Linked DNA regions of Homo sapiens. The protein of the gene in region 7 interacts with the protein of the main gene of each other region in a biochemical or structural test. Each region holds a gene or a part of one and is shown on either strand. Other genes may lie near its edges.

Evidence for each region.
Region 1: of the proteins of ITCH (region 7) and POU5F1, one has a biochemical effect on the other in vitro, tested with the Homo sapiens proteins (2 studies listed by BioGRID).
Region 2: of the proteins of ITCH (region 7) and SIK1, one has a biochemical effect on the other in vitro, tested with the Homo sapiens proteins (one study listed by BioGRID).
Region 3: the proteins of ITCH (region 7) and CPSF7 form a complex in vitro, tested with the Homo sapiens proteins (one study listed by BioGRID).
Region 4: the proteins of ITCH (region 7) and UBE2O form a complex in vitro, tested with the Homo sapiens proteins (one study listed by BioGRID).
Region 5: the proteins of ITCH (region 7) and NDFIP1 form a complex in vitro, tested with the Homo sapiens proteins (2 studies listed by BioGRID).
Region 6: the proteins of ITCH (region 7) and MLANA form a complex in vitro, tested with the Homo sapiens proteins (2 studies listed by BioGRID and IntAct, with this or other methods).

The regions. Positions count from the first base shown.
Region 1 is NC_000006.12:31,167,609-31,172,028, forward strand, and holds the start of POU5F1 (POU domain, class 5, transcription factor 1), read right to left. Parts: upstream 3,075-4,420; 5' UTR 3,013-3,074; coding exon 2,608-3,012; intron 1-2,607. UniProt on the Homo sapiens protein: Transcription factor that binds to the octamer motif (5'-ATTTGCAT-3'). Forms a trimeric complex with SOX2 or SOX15 on DNA and controls the expression of a number of genes involved in embryonic development such as YES1, FGF4, UTF1 and ZFP206.
Region 2 is NC_000021.9:43,424,254-43,428,620, forward strand, and holds the start of SIK1 (serine/threonine-protein kinase SIK1), read right to left. Parts: upstream 2,879-4,367; 5' UTR 2,757-2,878; intron 1,940-2,756; 5' UTR 1,926-1,939; coding exon 1,770-1,925; intron 1,271-1,769; coding exon 1,154-1,270; intron 1-1,153. UniProt on the Homo sapiens protein: Serine/threonine-protein kinase involved in various processes such as cell cycle regulation, gluconeogenesis and lipogenesis regulation, muscle growth and differentiation and tumor suppression. Phosphorylates HDAC4, HDAC5, PPME1, SREBF1, CRTC1/TORC1.
Region 3 is NC_000011.10:61,412,597-61,416,511, forward strand, and holds part of CPSF7 (cleavage and polyadenylation specificity factor subunit 7), read right to left. Parts: coding exon 3,509-3,915; intron 3,189-3,508; coding exon 3,070-3,188; intron 1-3,069.
Region 4 is NC_000017.11:76,400,790-76,404,704, forward strand, and holds part of UBE2O ((E3-independent) E2 ubiquitin-conjugating enzyme), read right to left. Parts: intron 1,911-3,915; coding exon 1,813-1,910; intron 1,339-1,812; coding exon 1,275-1,338; intron 366-1,274; coding exon 222-365; intron 1-221. UniProt on the Homo sapiens protein: E2/E3 hybrid ubiquitin-protein ligase that displays both E2 and E3 ligase activities and mediates monoubiquitination of target proteins. Negatively regulates TRAF6-mediated NF-kappa-B activation independently of its E2 activity.
Region 5 is NC_000005.10:142,111,465-142,115,379, forward strand, and holds part of NDFIP1 (NEDD4 family-interacting protein 1), read left to right. Parts: intron 1-3,915. UniProt on the Homo sapiens protein: Activates HECT domain-containing E3 ubiquitin-protein ligases, including NEDD4 and ITCH, and consequently modulates the stability of their targets. As a result, controls many cellular processes.
Region 6 is NC_000009.12:5,904,027-5,907,941, reverse strand, and holds part of MLANA (melanoma antigen recognized by T-cells 1), read right to left. Parts: intron 1,058-3,915; coding exon 944-1,057; intron 1-943. UniProt on the Homo sapiens protein: Involved in melanosome biogenesis by ensuring the stability of GPR143. Plays a vital role in the expression, stability, trafficking, and processing of melanocyte protein PMEL, which is critical to the formation of stage II melanosomes.
Region 7 is NC_000020.11:34,509,136-34,512,551, reverse strand, and holds the end of ITCH (E3 ubiquitin-protein ligase Itchy homolog), read right to left. Parts: 3' UTR 779-3,416; downstream 1-778. UniProt on the Homo sapiens protein: Acts as an Acts as an E3 ubiquitin-protein ligase which accepts ubiquitin from an E2 ubiquitin-conjugating enzyme in the form of a thioester and then directly transfers the ubiquitin to targeted substrates.

The DNA.
Region 1 (4,420 bases), on a different chromosome or scaffold from region 7:
GAGGCAGGAGAATTGCTTGAACCTAGGAGGTGGAGTTTGCAGTGAGCCAAGATCGCACCACTGCACTCCAGCCTGAGGGACAGAGTGAGACTCCATCTCAAAAATTAAAAAAAAAATAAAGCAGTCTATAGGAGTAGGGTAAAGGAGGGAAGGAGATTATGGAGGAGGGTGACACTTTTAAAGACAGAGAAGGTGATTGTTTGAGCAAAGGACAAGAGTCTAATGTGGCAAGGCCCTGAAGTGGGCCTTCCAGAGCCCAAAGCTGGTCTGGTGGCTAGGTAGATCCTGTTGCAGACATAGTGACTTTGTTTTAGTCCAAGCGAAATGATCTCTCACCCTTTTTCTCCCCACCAAGACGGAATCTCGTTCTATCGCCCAGGCTGGAGTGCTGTGGCGTGATCTTGGCTCACTGCAATCTCCGCCTTCTGGGTTCAAGCTATTCTGCCTCAGCCGCCTGAGTAGCTGGGACTACAGGCACCCACCACCATGCCCGGCTAATTTTTGTATTTTTAGTAGATATGGGGTTTCACCATGTTGGCCAGGCTGGTCAGGAGACCTCAAGTGATCTGTCCACCTTGGCCTCCCAAAGTGCTGGGATTACAGGTGTGAACCACCGCACCTAGCCTCACCTTTTTTTTTTTTTTTTTTGAGAGTTTCGCTTTTGTTGCCTAGGCTGGAGTGCACTGGCGCGATCTCGGCTCACCGCAACCTCCATCTCCCAGGTTCAAGCGATTCTCCTGCCTCAGCTTCCTGAGTAGCTGAGATTACAGGCATGCGTCACCACGCCCAGCTAATTTTGTATTTTTAGTAGAGATGGGGTTTCGCCATGTTGGTCAGGCTGGACTCGAACTCCCGACCTCAGGTGATTCGCCTGCCTCGGCCTCCCAAAGTGCCTGGCCACACCTTTTAAAACACTGACTCTAGTTGACGTGTTGGCCACAGACAGTAGGGAGGAAGCAGTATAATTTGAGAAGCTACTGCGGTAATCCCAGCAGAGATGATGGTGGCTGAGGCCAGGGTTAGGTTGTGATTGATTCAGGATGTTTCTTAAGGATAGGATGTAGGACATGAAAGAAACTGAGGATGACTGGGTTTGGCCTTGAGCAACTGGGTGATCAGGGTGGAGCAGTTCAGGGAGCCATCACAAGAGACAGAAAACGCGGTAGTCATCTGGTGTCTAAATGGCATTTAAGCCTTGAGGGTGGGTGAGAGGAAGGAAGGGTAGATAGAGCAGAGGTTGAAGGACTGAGCCCTGGGGCATGCCATATGAGGCTGCCGGCAGACAGAGGTGCACAGCTAGTGAGAAAAAAACAAGGCCTTTTTGTAGTTCTGAAGCCTCAAGGAAGTGTTTCAATGGTGCTTGATCATATCAATTTCAAATAGGCTGTTTTCATCCCCAACTTCTGCTCAGCCAATAACTCAAACTGATAAATGCCCTCTGCTATCTTGGATTTTCCAAATTCTGTTTTGGGGTTTTGGAATAAACACTGGTCCAAATCCTCGCTTCATCATTTAGCAGTTAAAACCCGTTAAATAGGATAATAATACCTCCCCCTAGGAGATTTTGTGCTGGTTAATGAGATAATGATGTATAAACGGAGCACACAGCCAGGCACTTAGGAAGTGGACCACAATTGCCAGCCATTATCATTCAAGGCTCAGCAGTGACCTCCTGCGAAGAGGTTGGGGCTTCTCGGTCACTCCAGAAACCAGTCACACCTTTCTGTGAGGTCTCAAGGCTTAGTATTTAATCTCTAATTGCTTACACTTGTCGCCTTGAAGGACTGGAAGATACATCTTTAATAGTCCTCAGCAGGGCTGGATGCCTTCAATCCCGCAGCAGCTCTATATTTGCAAATGGCCTGGAGAAATCTCTCACCATTTTTCTTGTTTACAACTTTGGAACTGAGGCTGAAGTCAATCAAAATCCAGCTTTCTACAAGGGGTGCCAGGGTGTGCACCTTAACACAGTGGCCAGTCATTGGCCTGAGGCAGAGATCCGGGGAAGACAAGCCCTATACTTGACTGGAGGTAAACCCAGCTCACAACGCGCACACACACAGCCCAAACAGGAGATCCTATCAGAAACGAGTCACACCCTAGACTTTCAGGAACAATAATCCTGGAATGAGCACTGTTTTTACCCTCAGGCTATGCTTAACCCTAAGGCCAAAATCTTGGGTCTGATAAGGGTCAAATTTTCAAGCAGGACTAAGGGTGGGAAAAGGGGCTCAAACCAACCCCAAGCTGGGTCTGGTGCTGGGCCAGTAATGAGTGACCAGACCCTGGGCAGGCCTAGGAGATGTGAGAGACCCTGACAAGGGCTGGGCCAGAGCAAAGGCCAGCCTGGGCCAGCTTCCGACTCTCCCAGGCTGCTCTGCCCTCACCGGCAGTTGTCTCTTCGAAATCCAGCTTCCACTTCCCACCTGGCCCCTGCCTGCCAGGGCTGCCAGCAGTTGATACACACCCCTCCCTGGCCAGGGCAGCTGACCCTGCCTGCTCCTCTCCTGGGTGCCAGGTCTGGGCAGCTGCAGGTGACCACTTCCCCATCAGGCTGCCCTGTCATGACCACCTCCCCACACCCCAACCCCGTCGAAGCTCACTTGCCTCCTCCGGGTTTTGCTCCAGCTTCTCCTTCTCCAGCTTCACGGCACCAGGGGTGACGGTGCAGGGCTCCGGGGAGGCCCCATCGGAGTTGCTCTCCACCCCGACTCCTGCTTCGCCCTCAGGCTGAGAGGTCTCCAAGCCGCCTTGGGGCACTAGCCCCACTCCAACCTGGGGCCCACAGTACGCCATCCCCCCACAGAACTCATACGGCGGGGGGCATGGGGGAATCCCCCACACCTCAGAGCCTGGCCCAACCCCCGGCCCGATTCCTGGCCCTCCAGGAGGGCCTTGGAAGCTTAGCCAGGTCCGAGGATCAACCCAGCCCGGCTCCGGCCCCCCTGGCCCATCACCTCCACCACCTGGAGGGGGCGAGAAGGCGAAATCCGAAGCCAGGTGTCCCGCCATGGGGAAGGAAGGCGCCCCAAGCCGGGGGCCTGGTGAAATGAGGGCTTGCGAAGGGACTACTCAACCCCTCTCTCCCTCCCCAGTCCCACCCACTAGCCTTGACCTCTGGCCCCGCCCCCTGGATGGGTGGAGGAGAGGGAGGTGGGGGGAGAAACTGAGGCGAAGGATGTTTGCCTAATGGTGGTGGCAATGGTGTCTGTGGAAGGGGAAAACCGGGAGACACAACTGGCGCCCCTCCAGGACCTCAGTGCAGGTCCCCCACAGAAACTTTTTTTATTTTTATTTTTTAAGACAGGGTCTCACTTTGTTGCCCAGACTGGAGTGCAGTGGAGTACAATGATGGCTCAATGTAGCCTCGATCTACTGGGCCAAAGCAATCCTTCTGCTCCAGCCTCCTAAGTGGCTGGGACTACAGGCTTGGACCACTGTGCCCTGTTAGTTTTTTTATTTTTAGTAGAGATGGGGCCTTGCTATGTTACCCAGGCTGGTCTTGAATTCCTGTCCTCAAGAAATCCTCCCGCCTCTGCCGCCCAGTGTCATGATTAAAGGCGTGAGCCACCACACCCAACTTTCAACTCCCAACCCGCTCCCTGGCACTCTCTCAGGCTCTGCACATCCCAGCTGTCTGGAATCACTCCCACACCTCCATGTTCTTCAGGAACCCAGGTGCTTGACCCCCTCTCCACAGACCTCTGGCACTGTGCCTTCAGGGGCCAGTCACCCTCTCAGCTCCTCAAATTTATTGAATGTGTGTGTGGCGCTATCCCTCAATGCATCAACAGCCATAAGCACAATGGCCAGCTGCTCCCTTATGCCTTCCCCCGATCCATCCAGAATCCTAGGCATTCCCATCCCGATACTGGCCAAATCCAGCCACCCCGCAGCCTGGGTGCCTGGCACCATCTGCCCAGCCTGCCAAATTTCACCCCATCTTCAAGAGTAGACTGCCAGACAAGGCCTCCGTGCTATATCCCCCCACCCCCCCATCCCCCCACCCCTCCGTCTTCCAGAATCAGACTCCAGACTCTCCTCATCTAACAGACTAAGGGGTTGGTCCCTACTTCCCCTTCAAGGGACCAGACTTTGGACTGACTGGGCCTCAGTTTCCCAACCTTTGCTGAAACAGAGTGATAAGACACCCGCTTTGGGCCCCCTCCACTATGGAACCTGCACATCAGGTTCCTTGCTCCCCTCTCAACCAAAACTCAGACATCTAATACCACGGTAGGCCCCGTTCTCCCTCCCCCACCTCCCTGGCCCAGGCCTCCAGCCCTAGGCCCTGGGTGGGGAAAACCAGGGGGTGGGGGGTGTGGAGAAAAAATATCTGACTTCAGGTTCAAAGAAGCCTGGGAGGGACTGGGGGAAGGGGGCAGGACAATGGCCTTGGCTGGACAATCCCGGTCCCCAG
Region 2 (4,367 bases), on a different chromosome or scaffold from region 7:
CAAAGTCAAAAACAAAACCAGCTCAGCCCACTCCTGAGGAAATGGGCTGGGCACGCTGCACAGGCAGTACACCAGTGGCCATGGAGCACACAACTTAAAAATGACAACAGAAACAAAACACAAACCAGGCGCACACGGCATGAATTCTGTGCTTAAAGACACTGAGCAAACTGTCGTAAGCTCCACCAATACTGCTACTTTTATTTTCAATCTAGTGCAGAGGCTTTTGGGGGATAATTTCGAATCATAATTCTCTCTCCTACCACACTGTACACCGAGCTGTCCTAATTGCACAAACACACACAACAACATCCCAGAGTCATCTCACATTCCATTTCATAAGAATCATTACGAGGAACTTCAACCCAACACAAATGGATGAAATAGCACCTGCAAAGAACTTCTTCTGCAAGAAGACTTGATTTCACCTTGCAAAAGTGGTCATTTGTCATTAGGGAGGTGTAAATGATTGCTTTGCTGTTCTAATTAAATTAGTACTTATTTCCTGATGATATAATTTATTAATTTCAACATGAGAACAAAAATTAAGTCACAAAATAAACCAACAGAGAGACAGGGCAAGCCATGTTCCTAGCATGGATTAAATGACAAGCTCCTTGCTCTTACTATGGAAAAGTATTTTCATCTCTCCGTTTTTCATGGAAGAGTTTAAATAGGGAAAACAAATGCTCACTACTGTCCTTGCAAAAATAAACTAATGAAAACCAGTAAGAGCAGCTGGCTTTAAAGTTTAATAATTATCTGCAAAGGCAGAAGTTTCCAGTTTCACTCAAATTTGTCCTTTTATACTAAATGCGTGACCTGTGGCAATACCTACAGATAAGTTTGTCTGTTTTCATAGTAAAGCAAATTTACAACAGACTTCTACACATTTAAAACTGGATCAGGTTAGGATACTAAATAAAATTCTAATGAAGCAAATCTCAATTATGATCCAAAAGCAATAAAATAATTGTAAATATATCTGCACAGCCTATAAAAATCAATCTATTTACCTTATACAACCAAATGCCCAACTTCCACACACTCCCCAAAAGGGAAGCCACCTTCAGAAATTGCAGACTTATGCTGTTGGAAATAAAATATAACACATTTGCCAGGATTAGCAGAGAAAGGCAAGCTGACCCCTTACCTGGTAAAGCTTTATGATGTGTGGATGGTTCAGAAGCTTCATCAGCTGAACCTCACGATAGATTTTCTCCAAATTGCTTGAATCTAATCGTGTTTTATCAATTATTTTTATTGCAACCTACAAATTTAAAAAGAAAAAGGATATTCTGTGGGTTTTTTTAAAAAAAGAAAAGAAACCCTCAACCTAATTTACACATTTCATTTTTTGCAAGTTAATTTCTCAACACTCTGTCTCCAGAAGGTCACAAGAAGTTGGGAAAACATAACCAAAGTAACCACTAATGTTATTTAAAATAATCAGAGTTAAGTAAGTGACTTAAGTATTTGCAGGCTCACTTTACAGGGTTTAGCTCTGAGTCCATGAACCACTGCAATCTTAGGTTGGTCCTTTTTTTTGCTATTATCCTCTCTGCTTTCTCCCAATATATGTCCAAATTATGCAGCAACATAATATAAAGCATTATTTTTCTTTACCGAACTAAAAACGGTTACTATTTACCCACCACGACAATCAAGCCTGGAGCAGTGAATCTGCATGGGGTCCACCCGCCAAAGGTCGGGTCGCCCCGGGTCCAGTGGGGAGGCCCCGCCGGCTGGGTCCCACCGCCCCCACGCACCTGCGTTTTGGTGACTCGATGCCGCGCCAGCTTCACCACCGCGAAGTTGCCTTTGCCCAGGGTCCGCTCGATGTCGTAAAAACCCACCCGGAGGGGCTTCTGCTGGCCCTGACCCTGGCCCGCGGGGTCCGCGCTGAACTCCGACATGATAACCATGGCTCCGCGCGCACCTGCGGGGCCGCACAGAGCTCAGAGCCCACCAGCGCCCCCGCCGCCCGCGGTCGGCTCCATCCGTGCCCGCGGAGCCCCCAGTCCCCACGGGACGCAGGGACCTGCTCCCACGCCTGTCGCCCCCACTCTATCCACGGGCCCCTCCAGCCCCGTGGGAGGTGTGGACCCGCCCCCGCCGCCCGCTCCACCCGGACCCCCGACCCTCTTGAGCCCCGCGGGGCGCACGGACCCGCTCTCATAGAGGCCCCTGCCGCCCGAGTCCGGTTCCGTCCCGATCCCGGGACCCCCTGAGCCGGGATTCCACACTCGCCTCCCGCCGCCCGCTGTCGGTTCCGTCCCCACCCTCGACCCCTTTAGCACCTCTGGGCGCGGACCCGCTCCCACACCTGGCCCTGCCACCCGAGGTCGGCTCGATCCGGATCCCAGGACCGTCCCCTGCCCCGCTCCCACACCCTGCCCCCGCCGCCCGCGATCCGTCCGGTCCCCACCCCCGACATCCCAGGCACCTCGGGGATCGCGGACCCGCCCCCCACACCCGGTATCTCCGCCCGCGGTCGGCTCCAACCTGACCCCCGGCTCCCCAGCCCCTGAGCCCCGCGGACTCACTCCTACCCCGGCCCCCCAACAAAGGGGAGCCCGAGGGCGGCCAGGCCGCCAACCCCGCCCGCGAACCCCGCGCGCGCAAGGCCAGGGACCCTGCGCGGTGGCTGCAACCCCGAGCCCCGGCCCGGCGCCCGCGCGGAGCCCCCACGGCGGCCACCTCCGCCCGCCCGGAGCCCGCCGCTGCCGCCGCTGCCGCCGCTGCCGCCGCCTCACCTCCGCCGCCACCGGAGCGCCCAGGCCAGGAAGCCGCCCGCTCGGCCGCTGGCGCTGCTCGGGTGCCTACTGCTCCGGCTGCCGCCGCCGCTGCTGCTGCCTCCGGGGCCGCGCCGCATGTCAGCCCGGAGCCGCCGCGCTCCGCCGCACGCGGCGCCCGGCCCCGCCCCGGCCCGCCCCGGCCCGCCCCCCGTAGTCCCCGCCCCCTGCCCCGCCCCCGCCGCCCGGGCGGGGGCCGCCCATTGACGTCGCTTTGACGCCAGAGCGACGCGCGGCCGAGCGCCGGGCGGAGGGAGAGCGGGAGATCGGGCGGTTGCCAAGAGACTGGCGGCTCTGACGCGCGCGGGATGAGGCCGTTGCCCTGGCGACCGCGGGCCGGTGACGTCAGGGGCGCCCGCCGCCCGAGGCCCGCCCGCCTGCGCTCCGCCGGGCGCCCCCTCCCGGGCGCTGGGGGCACTGCGGGCGGCCCCACCGCCGAGGGCGCGCCCGCCCCTCCACGCTCGGGCACTCGGGCCGGGTCCCGCGGGCGCCTTGTGCTCGCTCCCTCCAGGAGGGGACGGCTCTCGGGCAGGGGTCGCCGGCCCCTCCACGCGGCCTGCGTTCGTCCAGACTCAGAGCCTCGGGACGTGCGGGGGCCCGGGGGCCTCGCGGGCTCGCGCGTGGGGCTGGCGGCGCGGATGCCCTGGGGCGCTGCAGACCCCGAGAGGCCGCTTGCCCGCGGGGACGTCAGCCGCTTTTGCTGTTAAAATCTGAAATGTTCAGCAAGTTAGAAACTTGAAACCTAAGGAAGCGTGACCGGCCGCTCTGGAAGCCCCCGCCGCGCGGCCGGTCCCGGCCCCGGCCCTCAGCGGCGCTGGCGTCTGCGCGTCCCGGGGCTGCCCCCGCAGCATGTGGGGCTGGGACCCTCTTCCCGCGCGGGCCCCGGGCGGACGCTGCGGGCGGTGACGGAGCCAGGCCGGCCGCCTGGGTAGGGGACGGGGGCGCGGGACCACTTGCTTGCCCGTGGCCGATGCCTCATCCGAACGGAAAACGTTTTCTTCAGGGGAGACAGAGGCTGTGGGCGAAGGTATTTTTTAAGCCTGAGGACCCATTTGGGAGTTAGATTCTGGATCGAGCCTAGGGTCAGTTTTCCTTGTGTTAAATAACACTACTTCACAGAAGGGGGAACGAGAATTCAGGGGAGTTGGCACAAAACTTGGAACCCTTCTCGGGAGGCTTTCCTGCCTGGACGGACGCCTGGGAGGAGGGCCCGGAGAAACGAGGATGAGCTTCTCCTCATTCGCCCGAGGGTCTGACCACAGATTTCCCAATCGCCACACACACACACACACACACACACACACACACACACACACGGGTTGTTTGGGAGTCAGTTGGTTTTCAAAGGCTTTCAAGGAAATGAAGAGTCCCAAAGTTTTCCTTAATCGTTCAGAGTGTTTTTCTTTGTCCCAGGTTTATATACCAAGAATACGGGGGAATATTTTTAGTTCCTTTCAGCTGAACAGTGTACAACTGCCTTTTTTCCTTTTGGAGGTCCCAACACCCTGTTAATCCGCTCCTAGGAGAACTAAACAAAAACAAGGCTGGACGTCGTGTCTCCCGCCTGTAATC
Region 3 (3,915 bases), on a different chromosome or scaffold from region 7:
TTGTTATATTATCTTCAATAGGGTCTGGCTATATAAAGGAACATTGGTTCTACAGAATATTACATTATTAATGTACTATTAACAATTAAAAAAGCAGGAGGTAAACCTGTATGTAAACAAAGTAATCCATGTAAAGCCCTTAGCACAGTGCCAGGCACACAGTAAGGATCAATAAATGTTATGTTATATGTTGATATAATAGGTGTCCAGAATATACTAATTGAAACAAGCAAGTTTCAAAACCATATCCTGTTTTTGTAAAAACAATAAAAATTATATAAATTGTCATATGCATAGAAAAAATTCTGGAGGAATATAAACTATAAAAGGTGGTCTTATTGGTTGATGGTCCTTGTATAGAGGACTATTTTGTTTTTGAGATGGGTCTTGTTTTATCATCCAGGCTGAAGAGCAGTGGTATGATCATAGCTCACTGCATCCTTGAACTCCTGGGCTCAAGCCATCCTCCTGCATGCCACTTCACCTGGCTTATTTTTCAAAAATTTTTTGTAGAGATGGGGTCTCACTATGTTGACCAGGCTGGTCTTGAATTCCTGGCCTCAAGTGATCCTCCTGCCTGGGCCTCCTAAAGTGCTGGGATTATAGGTATGAGCCACTGTACCTCATGAGACTTTCTAAATAATGTGTATTTCTACAAGTTATTTTTAACCTACCATCAGATGTATGTGTGTATATATATGATATTTACATAAAACATGTATGCGTAGTATATGTATACATTAAAAAAATTATGGCTGGATGCAGTGGCTCACACTTGTAATCCCAGCACTTTGGGAGGCCGAGGTGGGCGGATCACTTGAAGCCAGAGTTCGAGACCAGCCTGGCCAAAATGGTGAAACCCGGTCTCTACTAAAAATACAAAAACTAGCTAGGCAGTGTGGCATGCACCTGTAATGCCAGTTATTTGGGGGGCTGAGGCAGGAGAATTGCTTAAATCTGGGAGGGAGAGGTTGCAGTGAGTCGGGATCAGACCACTGCACTACTCCAGCTTGGGCAATAGAGCCAGACTTCGTCTCAAAAAAAAAAAAAAAAAATTTATGCTGTCATAAAAAACTAGGCCTTTCATTTCCCAACTCTGAGTAATGCCTGGCTCAGGGATAGTGGTCATGGGGCGGGTACCTACACTTTGCTTTTCCAAGCTAAGTCAAGAGCATTAAGGACAAAAGTTAATACAAAGAAAATATGAATTCAGGCAGGGGTCCAGTGAAAATGAAGCCTGGCAGCTTCCTCTGTGCAAGGCAACAAGAACAGAAACTATGGAGAAACTGTCCAGTGGAGGCACAAGAATATGAAGACATCAGCTCCATCCTGGCAGGGAATTTTTGCCTGTTTTTGTAGTATCTTCAATAAGTATTTGTGGTTTGAATGACTGGAATGAGAACAACAGGAGATCAAGATTCAGTTATTGATCATCTTAGTGTGAAAGGGTTGATGAGGAAGAAGGAACAATGAGTACTTTCTTTATACTGTTCTGTGTATTTAACCCATATAACCCATGGGTATATATTACTTTTTAATTTAAAAAGACTAATTTTTTTTTTTTTTTTTTTGAGACACAGTTTCACTCTGTTACCCAGGCTGGAGTGCAGTGGCACAATCTCGGCTCACCACAACCTCCACGCCCTGGGTTCAAGCAATTCTCAATTCTCGTGCCTCAGCCTCCCAAGTAGCTGGGTCTATAGGCATGTGCCACCATGCCTGGCTTATTTTTGTATTATTAGTAGAGATGGGGTTTTGCCATGCTGGTCTCAAACTCCTGACCTCAAGTGATTTACCGGCCTTGGCCTCCCAAAGTGCTGGGACTACAGGCATGAGCCACTGCACCTGGCCTAAAAAAGACTAATTTAGATGTCAATGTAGATTTTTCTGGTGGGAAAAAAATGAAGGGAACATATGTACTTTCTGTCTTTAACCTTCTCTGTGGATTCAAGTTTGGCAAGATGATGCAAAGATGAAAACTGATGGAAAGCAGATGATAATATTTAGGGCTAACTTATTTCTTAGGAGATCTGATAATCTACAGACATTTACATTCATGTAGGAAACTCACAGGAAGGAAGTGAATATGGCTAATGTCACGATGTGAAAACCGGACCAGAACTCTGAAACTTCCTGTAGCCTCTTCTTTTAGAAACTAAAGATCTTATGCTCAGGGCTTTCAGAATCATGGCTGCTGGTTCTACCCACTTAATAATGAGAGCAGGGCAAAAGTTAGCTGTAAGGGCATAACATGCCTTAAGATGACATCTACAGACTTGCCTCTTTTTAGGATAGGCTACCTACCAGCTCTGCTTAGACTCCTAAATGTAATCAGATTTCATAGCAAACCATTATCTAGGCTGGACGTGGTGGCTCACACCTGTAATCCTAGCACTTTGGGAGGCCGAGACAGGCGGATCACTTGTGGTCAGGAGTTCAAGACCATCCTGGCCAATATGATGAAACCCTGTCTCTACAAAAAAATACAAAAATTAGCCGGGCGTGGTGGCAAGTGCCTGTAATCCCAGCTACTTGGGAGGCTGAGGCAGGAGAATCGCTTGAAACCAGGAGGTGGAGGCTGTAGTGAGCCAAGATTGCACCACTGCACTCCAGCCTGGGCGACAGGGCAAGACTCCCTCTCAAAACAAACAAACAAAAAAACACATTATCCAGTCAAAACATCATTCCTAAAGAAGACCCAGGGTCTATATCTGGTATTGGGTCTACTACACAGACACTAGATCTAAAGATCAACCACTGAGATGGAGATTTCCACAAGGCAGGAATTTCACTCTACAGCAAACACCACATCGAGATGGTATTAATTATTTATATTCTAGGCATTAAGTTGGTTTTCATGAGGGCAGGCCTAGATACAGACTAAGTAATACTGCCGGAGCTTCCCCAAGGCCAAGAAATCAGGTTACATATTGCTCTTCAAAGTATGCCGCTCTTGATATCTACAGTACTCCAACTTTATCTTGTTGAACTTTTGCCAGTAGAAATGACAAAATCAGGAAAAAAAAGTAAAGGTTAAGGAGAAGGCAGCAAAGGTAAGCACTGAGTTACCTGCACTGGCTCCAGATACTGCTTTGGAAATGGCACTGCTGGAAATTGCTCTGTTTCGCTTCATGATATCTTCAAATTCGGCTTCACTCACTGTAGAGGGTGGAGGGCCCGAATCTCGGCTGTACAGAGAAAATACCATCCTTGATTGCTCACATCCCTTATTATTTTTACTGTACTCTACAACACTTTGGTAATTTTGGCATAACACAGAACAATGCTAGACATCTGTAGCATTCATAACACCTGCTCCCGCATTTAATTAAGCACCTTAAAAAGGGGTATAAAGGACATGGTACTACTTCCCAGGAGTCAATGCTATGATAACAGAATGTCTATAAGGGAAAGAACAAGGATTCAGTGCTCACTTTCTCAGGGAGAATAAAATGCTTAATACACTTATTTACCCTGGCTCAAATCTGAAAGGAACAATAGTCCTTACCTGCCATGGTGGTTATAGGGGGCAGAGGCCTTCATGTAAGTATCTGGTGGAGGCCCCACTGTAGCGTTTGGTGGGGGGAAGAAGGCTGGATTGAGGTGAAGGGCAGGTGGGATGGCCCCAGGGGGAGGTACAGCAAGATGAGGAGGTAATCGAGGAGGTGGGGGCATGAGATGCTGGTAGTGGATACCAGGAGGAGGAGGAGGGACCCCAAAGCTTGAGGAGAGAGGTGGTGGGGGTGGAATTGGTGGTGGGGGCAGACCCATCAGGGGAAGGGCCGAAGGAGGACGATTGAAGTAGGGCAGCACACTGGGGGGCTTATCCACACGAGCAGATGAGGGTACAAGGTTCTCAGAGGGTGTGGCCCGTCCATCAGCAGAATCACTAGAATCTCGGGAATGGGCCCGTGG
Region 4 (3,915 bases), on a different chromosome or scaffold from region 7:
CCTTGCTCAGCCTGTACAGGCTGGGCTGGGGCACATCTGTCTTTTGGTCACTATGACCAGAGCCTGGGTTCCCTTTATCCCCAAAGCCCTTTGAGATCAACAGGGTCCAGATGCTGAGGAGCGGGGCTCAACCCTCAAGAGCAGGAAGGAAAGGGGCAGCAGCTCAGCTCCAGGGTGTGGAGGTCAAGGACTCCATCTCCTACCCTTGGGCCCGGACCCACCTCTTCCACCACCACTCGGAACTTGCTCTTGGTGCTGAGCACGGGCTTGACACCTGACAGCCACTGGACGCTGGAGAAGATCTTGGCAGGGCCAATGAGCACCTGGCCTGGGTAGAAGCCATAGGAATCATCGAAGAAGAGACCCTGCGGGATGTGGGGCCAAAGGAAAGTCCCCGTGAGCGGTGTCTCCATGGGTGACCATGCTCTCCACGCCTGTGCCCGCTGGCTGCCCACCTGCAGAAGCCCACTCACACACACGCCCCACACGCCCTAAAACAAGTCCTGTGGCTCCACATCAGCACTTCCCAAACCCTGGGTCCGCAGAGGTCATCTGGCGCCCTTGTTCAAACATAGGTGATGCATTCCATGCTCCTTGGTCAAGGGCTCATACTCTGAGGAATAAGACTCCAGAGAGCAGTGGTCCTGAAACCTGTTTGCTCACGCACCCCCTGTATATCTACTTGTTTGCTGTGTGTGTCCATGTACTATTGTAACTAACACATCATCCTGTACTGAGAGAGACAAAGTGGAACCTTAAAGGATGAGAAAAAAAAGCTACCAAAAATGCAAATAAAAGTTCTAATACTGCCGGGCGCGGTGGCTCACGCCTGTAATCCCAGCACTTTGGGAGGCTGTGGGCAGATCACCCGAGGTCAAGAGTTCGAGACCAGCCTGGCCAACATGGTGAAACCTCATCTCCACTAAAAATACAAAAATTAGACGGGTGTGGTGGCACACGCCTGTAATCCCAGCTACTCGGGAGGCTGAGGCCAAAGAATCACTTGAACCCGGGAGGTGGAGGTTGCAGTGAGCCGAGATCGCACCGTTGCACTCCAGCCTGGGCGACAGTGAGACTCTGTCTCAAAAAAAAAAAAAAAAAAAAAAGTTCTAATACTTTCTGCCTATACCCAAACTTTTAGACCCTCTGGCGCGCACCCGCCCCTTTTCTAGGAAACCGCTCTGTTTAGCTGGGTCCAGGTCTTTGCTACGAAGTCCTCCTTCCAGAGGACTGAGCAATCAGAGAAGGGTGCTGGCCTGGATGGAGCACACTACCGAGTCGCTGACGTGCGGGCAGACGTCGTAGAGCTTGGCGCCATCTTCCGTGTTCATGGAGCACCTAAAACAGAGAACAGAGGTTTGGTCTCCACCAGGGGACACAGTGAGTACCAAAAAGTTGCGATTCTGAGATGCCAATGCGCCCACATGCCCTAAATAGCACAATTCGTCTTCTACCATCAACTCAGCCCGAGGTAGTACAAGAAACTCTCCCACAACGAACAAGACCCCAAGTGCCACTGGAGTGCTTGCTCAGCACCATCACAGTGCCTCAAGTAAAGCATCAGCCTCTAGCAGATATCCTCAGTGAAAACGTTTCTCCCCATGCCAGGACAGATCAGAAACTGAGCAACAGAAATAGGCCACGGCAGATAAGGAGAACGGTACAGGGTTAGGCCCTGGATGCCTGCAACATCTGTCACTGCCCTTGATCAAACCTGTCATCACTGTCCCCAGGAGGAAACACCCTCCTCCTCCCCTCTTTCCAAGAGGCTATCCTTCCCAAGCCGATGGCTCTCTGGTGGTGAGACTCTACCTGGCGCCGTTGGATAGCTTCAGGATGATCTGGTTCTTCAAGTCGTAGACCTTCCCCAGCCAGCAGTCATAGGCAATGTAGTCCCCATACATGAAGGGCTGCAGACCAAGGAGGCAGGGGCAGTGAGACACAGCAGACAACGTTCATGTCCAGGGCACAGATTCCTCTATGCCCCACCGAAGACAGGATGGGGGAGGATCTAGACAGCTCACTGACTGGACCGGTTGGCTACTAGCCCTAAACAGCTGCTGCAGCAGGCCCTCCCTACAAGTTCTAGGCTGCATCCCAGCTGCTCTTCCCAGTGAGGAGGAAGTGGTGGTGGTGGTGGGGCTGCCTGGAGGGAACGGGGTGGGTGATGCAGGGGCAGAGAGGCCTGATGGCATCCATGGACATGGGACATCCATGGACACAGGACACCTGGCAAAGTAGGCTGTGGAGGTGGCAGGCAGAGGAGGCAGCCACACCACTGGGGGGTGGCTACATGGACAGTGCTCTGAGTAAATACGTTAACACATCAAGGATATCGAGAGCCAAGTCCCTCATTGTTGGAGAAGGTGCCCAGGTGTTTACTAACAGAAAGGGAGCAGGAAGGAGAAGAAGGAAGAGGAGTCTGAGGTGTTTAGGTGGAAGTGGATCTATCAGGATGAACTCATATATTTTATTTTACTTTATTATTATTTTTTTTAGAGACAGGGTCTTGCTCTATTGCCCAGGCTGGAGTGCAATGGTGTGATCTTGGCTTAATGCAACCTCCATCTTTGGGCTCAAGCGACTCTCCCACCTCAGTCTTCTGAGTAGCTGGGACTACAGGCATGCATCACCGTGCCTGGCCAATTTTTTCATATATTTTGGTTGAGATGGGGTTTCGCCATGTTGCCCAAGCTGGTCTTAAACTCTTGAGCTCAAGTGATCCATCTGCCTCAGCCTCTCAAAGTGTTGGGATTACAGGGGTGAGCCACTGCGCCCGTGAACTCTGCCTGAACTCATATATTTTAATATACACATAGAGCAGGTAGTGACATATTTAGATGTGTGTATACATATAATACATATGTATTTCCTAGTGTGTCCCAAAAGAGCCAAGTAGCAATTAGCACACCTAGCATCCAGATCTTGGGTTTTAAAAATACCATTCTCTGAAAACAATGAGGCTTCTTGGAGAAATGGTTGATTCTGGGGCTGGATCACAAAAAGTACAAGATGAGCCTGGCACATCTCATGCCAGAAAGAAAGAAAGTTCTTAAAAAACCAACAAAAAGGGCCATGTGAGAAGGACATGAAAGCCAGCTTGAAGGGGTTCCCACTGGCTAAATCTGGGACCATCCAAGCAACAGAACAGATAATAGTAGTAATTAATTATAACCAATGAATAAAACAGAAATCTCTAAGTCCATACTGATAAAAAAAAAGAATACATAAATAGGGCAGAAGATAAAGCTCTTCTACAGAGCAGAATGCCAGCTAAAAGAAATGAGGGGAACAAGGGAGTCATAGAACCACCATTTAGCAACATCAGAGCAATGGCTGGCGCAGGGGGAACTGTGAATGGAGGCCAAAGCTGGTGGATTTCAGTTTGACAAATGACAGGTTATAGACATAATCTGGGACTACGTTCCCACAAAATACAATCACTTAAAGGGGGTAAATGGTGAGTTTATGGTGGAGAGACCTGGTGGACACCAACATGACCAGGGGTAAAAGTGAACAACCCCAGCACTTTGGCTATGGGGTACCATGAACCAGGGCAGAGCTCTGCGGCGGGCCTGCCAAGAACACGTGGGCATGAGGCAACACCAGGAAGACCCAGGCTGAGGGTCAAATTACTGAATGTATCACTGTTCAGGGCATGGAAGACAAAGAAAGGCTGGGAAGCGATTCCAGATTGGAGAGAAAATGAAGAGATGACAACTCAATGCAAGATGTGTTCCTGAATTGGGTCCTGGATCCGCAAAGAAGAAAAGAGTAGTGTTGGGACAACTGCATGTGGTCTGTGGACTGGACAGTAATTATCAACGTTGATTTCCCAATCTGGGGGTTATATGGTGGTTGCACAGGAGGCTGTCCTCATTTTTGGAAAACACACAAGAGGTGTGTGTATTCCGG
Region 5 (3,915 bases), on a different chromosome or scaffold from region 7:
AAATTACTAGCCATGGAAATGCCTGGTCAGCGAATATGCATTTTTAAAAGGCTTTTGAATTATAGAATGATGGTGAATTGTCCAGGCAACTTGATAGGAGCATGATACTCTTTGGTTGTCACACAGGGCTGTTCTGACTTCTATTTGATCTGGTTAATCAAATTGAGCTAGTTTTCTCACCAAGTAAATGTAATGGAAAACTGTATGATTCATTCATAAATGCAAACACAGTTTTGTCTTTATGGTCTTTTTATTGGTAGTGTAATATGTGGACAACTTGAATTTAGCATAGTGACAGACTATGCAGAAAGGGTAGGCTCAACCAGGTGTGGTGGCTCACACCTGTAATCACAGCACTTTGGGAGGCCGAGGTGGGCGGATCACTTGAGGTCAGGAGTTCGAGACCAGCCTGGCCAACATGGCAAAACCTTGCCTCTACTAAAAATACAAAAATTAGCCAGGTGTGGTGGCACTCACCTGTAATCCCAGCTACTTGGGAGGCTGAGGCAGGAGAATTGCTTGAACCTGGGAGGCAGAAGTTGCAGTGAGCCAAGATTGTGCCACTGAACCCCAGCCTGGGTGACAGAGTGGGACTGTCTCAAAAAAAACCAAAACAAAACAAAACAAAAAATGGCCAGGCAAGGTGGCTCATGCCTGTAATCCCAGCACTTTGGGAGGCCAAGGCAGGCAGATCACAAAGATCACGAGGTCAAGAGATTGAGACCATCCTGGCCAACATGTGAAACCCCATCTCTATTAAAAATACAAAAATTAGCTGGGCGTGGTGGCGTGCACCTGTAGTCCCAGCTACTCAGGAGGCTGAGGCAGGAGAATCGCTTGAACCTGGGAGGCAGATGTTTCAGTGAACTGAGATCGTGCCACTGCACTCCTGCCTGGCGACAGAGCAAGACTCTGTTTAAAAAAAAAAGCACGGTGTGGTGGTGCACATCTGTAACTCCAGCTACTTGGGAGGCTGAGGCAGGAAAATCACTTGAACCCAGGAGGCAGAGTTTGCAGTAGGCTGGGATCGCGCCACTGTACTCCAGGTTGGGTGAGCAAGACTGTCTTAAAAAAAAAAAAAAAAAAAGGCACCGAGGTGGGCGGATCACAAGGTCAGGAGATCGAGACCATCCTGGCTAACATGGTGAAACCCCATCTCTACTAAAAATACAAAAAATTAGTTGGGCGTGGTGGCACGTGCCTGTAGTAGTCCCAGCTACTCGGGAGGCTGAGGCAGGAGAAACCCGGGAGGTGAAGATTGCAGTGAGCCGAGATCGCGCCACTGCACTCCAGGCTGGGCGACGAAGTGAGACTCTGTCCAAAAAAAAAAAAAAGAGGCTAGGCTTATAGGTTCCCCTGGCATTATTTTATTTTTTTTTTCATTTTTGCCTTTTGAAACTGAGACTGTCTCAGACAGTATGGAAGCACTATTTTAGAAAGACCTAAGTAGGCCCATACTGAGTGCTGAGAAACCTGTTGCGTGTTTCTCTCTCTGAGGACGTTAACTCCCGTTCATCCATAGATGAACGCAGATCTTCTGCGGTAGATGTGTGCATGAATTTTGCCAATTCATTTCAAGTATTTTGGGATACTTGGATTTGAATTCAATGTAAGTGGGTGATGATGACACTGCCATGTAGGTTCAAACAGATTACAGAATGTTTAGTTCTGGACTTGCCTCATTACCTGCTAAAGAAGTTGCCCACTTGTGAGCATCACCAATACTCTGTATGATAGTTTGATGACATTATAGTGCAGATTTTGGAATGGTATACTTTTGGATAAATTCTCTCAGGATTATGGAGGAATATTTTGATGAGCATAAGAATTTCATCTCTGATAGGTCAAACCATATTCATGTTAAATTATTAGATGAAGTAATGATCCTGGAGGAAGGAATGAATAGTGCTTATGTGGCTTTTTTGCTTATTTTTCAGTTTCAAAAGAAGTTATATCACAGAATGCCAACATAACCTAAATGTCAAAGTTTCTTAAGTTATATGCTGTATTTGTGGCCTACATGGTCAGTGATCAAAGAAAATTTATAAAAATATTAGGAAGATGGGTAAATTATTCCTTTGAAAACTTTAATTGTGGTAAAATACACATAAAATTTACCATGTTAACCACTTTTAAGTATACAGTTTAGTGGCATTAAGTACATTCACATTGTTGTGGAACCAGTCCATCTCCAGAACTTTGTCACCTTGCAGAACTGAAACTCCATATCCATTAAACAATAACTCTCCATTCCCCCTCCTCCAGCCCCTGGAAGCCACCATTCTACTTTCTATGTATTTGACTACCGTAGGTACCTCTCATAAGTGGAATTAGACAGGATTTGTCCTTTTGTGACTGGCATATGTCACTTAGCATAATGTCTTCAGAGTTCATCCATGTTGTAGCATGTGTCAGAATTTCCTGCCTCTTTAAGGCTGAATAATAGTCCATTTTATATATGTACCACATTTTGTTTATGCATTCATTTGTTGACGGATGCTTGGTTTGCTTCTACCTTTTGGTCATTGTGAGTAATGCTGCTATAAAAAACATGAGTCTACAAATATCTTTCAAGTCCCTGCTTTCAGTTCTTTTGGATATACCCAGAAATGGAATTGCTGGGTCATACGGCAATTCTATTTTTAAGTTTTCGAGAAACTCCCATACTGTTTTCCATGGCAGCTTCACCATTTTATTTTCCCACCAACAATGCATAAGGATTCCAATTTCTCCATATCCTCAACATACTTGTTATGTTCTCTTTTTTGTTTTTGTTTTTTTGATAGTAGCCATCTAATGGGTGTGAAGTGGTATCTCATTGCAGTATTGATCCCTATTTCCCTAATAATTAGCGATGTTGAGCATCTTTTCATGTGCTTATTGGCCATTGATATTTTCTTTAGAGAAAATGTGTATTCATGTTCTTTGTTCATTTTTGAATTGAGTTTTTTGTTGTCGAGTTGTAGGAGTAATTTCTTCATGATGTTTACATTTTCAACTTTTTACTATGGAAATTTCAAACACATACAATAATAAAGTAGTGTAAGAAATTTTATGTACCATCACCCAGCTTCAGCAATTGTGAATGAATGGCCAATATTATTTCACTTATACTCACCACATTATTTTGAAACGAATCCTAGAAATCATATATTGATAAATATTTCTATGTGTAACGCTAAAAGAAAACAAATGGTATGATATTTCAAGAAGATATCACATGAGGAATATATCATGAGAGCTCTCTTGTAATCTGTGAGGAGTATGGAAACAGGATTTGTCAGTGTCGGGCTGTGGATCCATAACTAACTGTCCTTTGTATTGATTGGGCTCACTCTTGCCAAGCCTCATGCTTTGTTTTTGTAGCAGTGATAGATTCCTGTTAATCTATCCTTGTTTTCTTACCTGATCCCATGGGTGACCACTTGTTAGGCAAGATTTATTTGGCTTAATCATACTATCTGTGTCCTGAAAATAGGGCAGTGCTTCCTGGTTTGGGCAGAAACCAAGGCCCAGTTGAACTGCTCTAGGGAATTTTGCTCTAAGCTGATGCCACCAGTAGTTTAACTGCACATAACTTCAAATTGTTTTATCCTAGACATTAATTATATTTCATAATTTTATGGTAGATTATAAAGTAAATCCTACCATGAGAATAACTTCATATTTTTATTAAGAAAGAAAAAAAGTCTCCAAGAGATTCAAGTGACATCCTCAGATTTATTTGTTTTTAGGGCTTTAAAATAATTATTTTGGTTTCTTAAAATGTTCTTGTTTTACCTTTAAGCAAGTACAACAGCTTAGAAGAATTATATTCTTTTTTGTTTGTTTGTTTTGAGATGGAGTGTCTTTCTTCTTGCTCAGGCTGGAAGGCAATGGCGCGATCTCGGCTCACTGCAACCTCCGCCTCCCAGG
Region 6 (3,915 bases), on a different chromosome or scaffold from region 7:
TGCTCTTGTCTCCCAGGCTGGAGTGCAGTGGCACTATCTCGGCTCACTGCAACCTCCACCTCCCGGGTTCAAGTGATTCTCCTGCCTCAGCGTCCCAAGTAGCTGGGATTACAGGCATGCACCACCACGCTTGGCTAATTTTTGTATTTTTAGTAAAGATAGGATTTCACCATGTTTGCCAGGCTGGTCTCGAGCTCCTGAGATCAGGTGATCCACCCACCTCGGCCTCCCGAAGTGCTGGGATTACAGGTGTGAGCCACCATGCCCAGCCATATGTAATTTTAAAATTTCTAGTAGCTACATTTAAAAGAAGAAACATGTAAAATTAATCTTAAAATATTTTGTTTAACCTAATATTTTCAGAATATTTATTTCAAGGTGAATCAATATAAAAATCATTAATGAACCATTTATCTTCTTTTCTACATACTAATATTTTTGAAATATGATATGTATTATAATACATCTTATTTCAAACTCCTGTGTTTTAAGTGTTCAATAGCACCATGTGACTAGTGGCTAAGCCATCAGACAGCACAGCTCTATACAATAAATAATAGGTACTTTATCCCTTCCCTCTGTATATATCTGCATCCATTAAAAAGGCAAATATAACTAAAAACATAAAAGAATATTGTATCCAGGACTAAATTCTTCCTTTGAATCTTACATGTAGGGCTCTCATTATTGACCCTGGAAACACTGGGTATGTGACAACACAATTAAGAAAATATCTGTACTTCCCTTGTTTTTTATTATTATTTATTTTTTATTCTCATAAAATACACATAAAAGTTGCCATTTTAACCATTTTTAGGTGTATATAGTTCAGTGGCAATGAGTACATTCACATTGTCCTTGCTTTTTAAATGGAAATAATTGTATTCACTTGAGTTAAAAACAGCCATTCATGAAAATACCCTTATGAAGGATCTTAACCTACCACAGGTTCACAGTTTTTCTCTTGAAGAGACACTTTGCTGTCCCGATGATCAAACCCTTCTTGTGGGCATCTTCTTGTTAAGGCACATTGAGTGCCAACATGAAGACTTTTATCCTGAAATGTAAATTGATAAAGGTGAGTGGGTGAGAAGAAGTAACTGAATCCATTAAAGAAAAGAGAAGGAAGCCAAAGTTTTAAGAATGAGTTTTAATCTAGGTTCTGCCACTTACTTGCTGTGTGCCTTCAGTCTCATCACTTTACCTTCTGAATTCTGAGTTTGCATCTAGGAATATAATACCTACCTACCTCTCAGAATTGCTGTGGGAATTAACTAGAAGTAAAGCTCTAGTGCAGTACCTGGGACCCAATAGTTGGTCAAAGAATATTTCTGAAGGGAAGGATAAGAAGAGTGAATCTACAAAAGGAACACTCTTGTGAAATTATCCATCAATAGTGAAGCAGAAATAAAGACTTTGTCAAGCAAAAATTGAGGGAATTCATTGCCAGTAGACCTGCCTTGCAGGAAACTTTTGAAGTTCTTTAGAGAAAAAGAAAATAACATAGGTCAGAACCTTGTACCTACATAAAGGAAGAACATCCAAGAAGGAATAAGTGAAGGTAAAATAAAAACTTTTTTTTTCTTTTCTTTTCTTTTCTTTTTTTTTTTTTGAGACAGAGTCTCACTCTGTTGCCCAGGCTGGAGTATAATGGCACGATCTCGGCTCACTGCAACCTCTGCGTCCTGGGTTCAAGTGATACTCCTGCCTCAGCCTCCTAAAACTTTGTTTTTCTTTCTTTCTTTTTTTTTTTTTAAGAGACATGATCTTGCTAAGTTGCCTAGGCTGGTCTTAAACTCCTGAGCTCAAGCAATCCTCCTGCCTCAGCCTCTGAGTAGCTGAGACTATAGGCATGCACCACTGCACCCAACATATTTGTCTTATTCTTAGTTGATTTAACAGATAATAGTTTGTTCAAAAATGAATAATAGCAACAATGTATTTAATTAGGTATGCTTATATATACTTGAAATTAATAACAGCAATGATACAAGGGAAAGGAATGTTAACAGAAAGAAAAAAACTGCAAAATATTTTAAAGAGGTTTATTCTGTGCCGATATGAATGACCATGGCCGGGAGAATAGTCTCAAGAGGTCCTGAGAAAGTGTGCCTGAGGTGGTTGGGTTATGATTTGGTTTTATATGTTTCAGGAAGACAGGAATTGTAGGTAAAAATCATAAATCAATACACGGAAGGTATACATTGGGTCAGCCTGAAAAGGCAGGACATGGCAAAGCAGAGACTTACAAGTCACAGGTGGGTTTTAGGTATTCTTTAGTTAGCAGCTGGTTGAAAGAGTTCAGCTCTGTCTTAAGACTTGAAGTCAGTATAAAGGAATGCTTAAGGTAAGGGAGTCTGCAATCTGTCATGTGATGCTATACCAGAGTCAGTTTGGAAAGTATACCACATTATATGGGGTTAATTAAAAAAAAATTTTTTTATGGTTTGAAGGGCATGATTTAACCCTTTCCTTGCATTGTCTTGTTCCTAATTTGATATTGCCACAAAGAGTTCATTCTGTCAGTCCTGTAATCTCTATTTTAAAATTAATGCTGGTCAGTTGTACCTAAAACTCTAAAAGGGAGGGAGTATAATGAGGCATCTCTCACCTCCCTTCCCGTCATGGCCAACACTCAGTTTTTCAGGTTTCCCTGGGGTCCCCTTGGTGAAGAGGGGGTCCATTCAGTTGTTTGGAGGATTTAGGATTTTGTTTTTAGTTTACAGGAGGAAGGAATTAGGATTATTTTAAGATACTCATAATGCCTATGAAATGGTATAGTGTTATTTGAAAGTGGATTTGAATTAGTTGTAAATGTATGTTGCAAACTCTAGGGAAACCACTGAAAAAAAGTAAAAAAGAAGTATAAGGCCGGGCACGGTGGCTCACACCTGTAATCGCAGCACTTTGGGAGGTCAAGGCGTGTGGATCACGAGGTCAGGAGATTGAGACCATCCTGGCTAACACAGTGAAATGACATCTCTACTATAAATACAAAAAATTAGCCAGGCATGGTAGCGGGCACCTGTAGTCCCAGCTACTTGGGAGGCTGAGTCAGGAGAATGGCATGAACCCAGGAGGCAGAGCTTGCAGTGAGCCCAGATCATACCACTGCACTCCAGCCTGGGCAACGGAGTGAGACTCCGTCTCAAAAAAAAAAAAAAAGAAGTGTAACTGGACTGGGCGCGGTGGCTCACGCCTGTAATCCTAGCACTTTGGGAGGCCAAGTGGGTGGATCACTTGAGGTCGAGTTCCAGCCTGGCCAACATGATGAAACCCCGTCTCTACTAAAAATACAAAAATTAGATGAGCATAGTAGTATGCACCTTTAATCTCAGCTACTCAGGAGGCTGAGACAGGAGAATCACTTGAACCTGGGAGGCAGAGGTGGCAGTGAGCTGAGATCGTGCCACTGCACTCCAGCCTGGGCGACAGAGTGAGTGAGATTCTGTCTCAAAAAGAAAAAAGTATAACTGATATGCCAAGAAAGGAGAGAAAATGGAATCATATAAAATGTCCAGTGAAAATCACAAAAGGCAGAAAAAGAGTAAAGACAAAAATAGAAACAAAGAACAGAGGCAACAGGTAGAAAACAGTAACAATATGGTAGATATCAATCCAACTATATCAATAACTACTTTGAATATCAATGGTCTAAATGCACCAATTAAAAGACAGATTGTCAGAGTGGATCAACAAACAAGACCCAACTATGTGTTCTCTACAAGAAACCCTCTTTAAATATAAAGACACATACATGTACATTAAAAGTAAGTGGATAGAGGCCAGGCATGGTGGCTCACACCTGTAATCCCAAGCACTTTGGGAGACCAAGGCAGGCGGATTGCCTGAGCTCAGGAGTTCAAGACCAGCCTGGGCAACATGGTGAAACCCCATCTCTGCTAAAAATACAAA
Region 7 (3,416 bases):
TAGATCAGCCGTATTAAAAAATTCCTCTTCCCTTAGTCTCTCTCCACTGGTTCTGTTTTAAATGAGAGCATAATCACCTGAGCTTCCTAATAAGACAAAGTTCTACTGACGCTGGTAACCAGGTCAGCTTGTTGAGAACAGTCTTGGTAACAGTCTTGACAGCTAGCTAGTTGGTGGTTCTCTACTCAGCACTCATGCCTGTGGTCCCGGTCTTTTAGTTGTCTCAGAAAAGCAATTCATATGGAGGCCTTTATGTTGGTTGATGGCCCCTGCAGATATCTTCATCTTCAACATGGGCACCAAATCCAGTCTCATCTGCAACAGCTCTTTCTAGTTTTTTTCTACCCGTACCGTGGCAGGCCAGATCTCAATAACGCAGGCCTCCATAACAACTGTTTCAGCACTGAGTGGTTAAGTTAAATATTAAAAGCTGAAAGAGTGAGGGCCCTTATGCAAAGGCTAGAATGTAACAAAAGGCCACCAAGGGTTTTGCCCAGGCCTTTTCTGGGCCTTGAAGCATGACAAGATAACAAAGGAACCCATTTAGGATTAAACAAGTTTTATTGGGGGTCTGAAGGAACTTATTGAGGGGGTCTGAAGGCCTCCACAAACAAGTTTACTGGGGGTCTGAAGGAAGTCCCCAAACCTCCATGATTTAGCAGGAAACAAGATAAGGGTAATCACCCCAGCACCTGGACCCATTTAGATTAAGTAAATTTACTGAGGCTCCAGAGGAAGGTCTTCAGGGCTCAGATCTTATTTATAGATTTAAAAAAGTGAATCACTTATGTCTTTAGATGAATGTACACTCACATGTAGACATATAGCTTATAATGTAAATAAGCTCTGGAAAACTTTGTAGTTTTGAGTTGGTCTTGGGATCATTTCCAGGCTTTCTCCCCATACCTGGTTACAGAAATAAACTCCCTCCTTTCTCAGTTCATCTGCACCTCATTATTGGGCTGCGAGAATAAGCAGTCCAACCCTTGATTTGGTCTGGGAACAATACCACAATCCAGATGGGCTGTAACTTGCCACTTAAAAAAGCAGAGAGGCAGAAATCTATGTGACCTGGTCACATATAAGTCTCAGAAGGTGGGGCCGGGGAGAGAGGAAAGAGACCCCTCCTTACCCAAGACTGATAGAAAAGCATGCAAATGAAGGACCAAAAAAGTTTAATTATAAACAGTCTTACATCTTGTAGGAAAACGCAAGTGAGGCAACCACTGAAGGAACTTTATAAAAGCATTTGACTCCCTGTAATATTTGTAGCATTACCTGAGTATTAAAAGTAACAGATCAAGAAAACAAAGGTACTCTTAATACAGTAATATACAATCCAGTGCTGCCAATTCCATTTTTAGTTAATGAAAGCAAATTATACAAACAAAGTAAATAACTAAAAGAAAAACAAAAAAAGGAGGGGGGCTGGAGATACCAACAATACTAAATAGAAGTCGTTAACTCTAAAGGAGTTTAGAAAGGTAAGTTACATCCACAACAGGAAAGGATATAAAAATAGAGGAAAAATTTAATTCCGTGAGTCAACCCCGGTAACATTTCGGATTATTAACCAGATAAGTAAAAAGTGGTAGAGTGGGCTTGACTGAAATAGTTCATTTAGGATGAGAACTTTGTGTATAGTTGAGTCAAGTTTCACTAAAATTTCTGATCATTGGTATGTCAATCTCTTGATGAAAAATCAGTACCTGAATATGTCTTTTTGTTTTTTTAAGAGACAGGGTCTTGCTATGTTGCCCAGGCAGGATTTGAACTCCTGGGATCCTCCCACCTCAGCCTCCCGAGTACAATACCTGAATTTTAAATAGAGTTATTGTAAGTCTTATGAAATGAGATTTTGCTGCACTCTGACATAAGATAATAAAAGACAGAGCAGGAATTCATTATTATGAGCTGCTTGATCAGTTTTAAACCACTCCATTTGATGAAACAAGTGAGGTCCTTCCCTCCTGACCAGGCTGTGGAATGCTGTCTTCCCCAACCCCCACCCCCTGCAAAAGAGCAGAACAATAAGGCAATTGCTCATTTTACTTTGTTTTTATTTCAATGTAACATGCAGTAAAAAAAAAAAAAAAAAAAAAAAAAAATTAACAGGATTTATTAGCATTTACAATGCTTACAAAGAAAAAGACTTCTAAAAGCAAGTTAGTTCAGATTTAAGAAAAAGCTCTAAGTAAATACTTACAATAAATCTATTTCCATATGTTCAGTTTGGACCAAAATTTAAGATAGCATTTGGTAGATATTTATGTCTGCGGTCTATTTGCAGTATTTTTATATAACCTCTGATTCTTGGGATATCCAGCCCCCATTTTCCTAACACAGCAGGGAAGACATATACATGTGGCCACTTAAATTAAAGGAAAAAATGGAGTAGGGAGATCCCAGGCTGCAAAAATATATACAAGCATTTACCTTTTCCAGAACTAAACACTTCTTCCATAAAAATATTAAATAGCCAAGCCCTATAGAACTAGGGCCAGGGCTACTTCAAATATAACTATTCTGTATTTTAAAAATATAGGGCAGAAAGCCTTTTGGGTGATATTTATATATTTTCACACAATATTTCTAGGTCCCTAAATGAATCATGAAGCATTATATAGAACCAAAAAAATGTATTTTCTTACATTATCTCTTAATTTAATTTCATAAATCTCTAGTAAATATTGTAGGTAACTACATTTCAGTATGAGAATTCACCTCAACAGGAAGTCTTTATAGAGGGCTTAATCTTCATTAGCCATATATTACCAAGTTCAGACTTATATAATGAACGGGTAGTTGGCAGACATTCGCTCTGTAAGACAAAGCAATAGCGTTTTTTCTCCCTACCAACAAAAAGGCAGAGTCCCTACTTTTAACAACCAGGGCTTTTAGAAACCACACAGTATTTCCTGGGGTACATGAAATAAAAAAACCATAGGGCTGGGGAGAGCCTAGCCTCCCCATTTACACTGAGCTGCTTGATGAGGCAACCCTTTCACTCATGTAAGTCTCTGCTTTATGATGGCAGTATCTTACAGTAGACAAGTTTAAAAAAATGTTTTTATTGTTGTTCCAGGATGTAAAAGGAAGAACATTAGGGACAAAAAATTGTTTTTCTTTTTTCCATATGGAACAGGGTTCTGCTGCTTATTCTTGGCTTAATATTACTTGTTCATGCTATGCCTCTGAAATGTGGCAAAAGTCCCTGATACATGAGCTATGAGGCTGTCCTCAGGGTTCAGCTATGATAGAGACTCAGCTGGCTTAGGCTTCATCCACTGCCAATGAAGTCAAATTTATAACAGCCACCTTGACAGTCGAAGCTAGGCCAAGTTAAAATAATTAATTCCAGAGAACTTCAAAGTGCATTAATCAGTTAATAATGGAGCAATCTAAACTTAAATAGT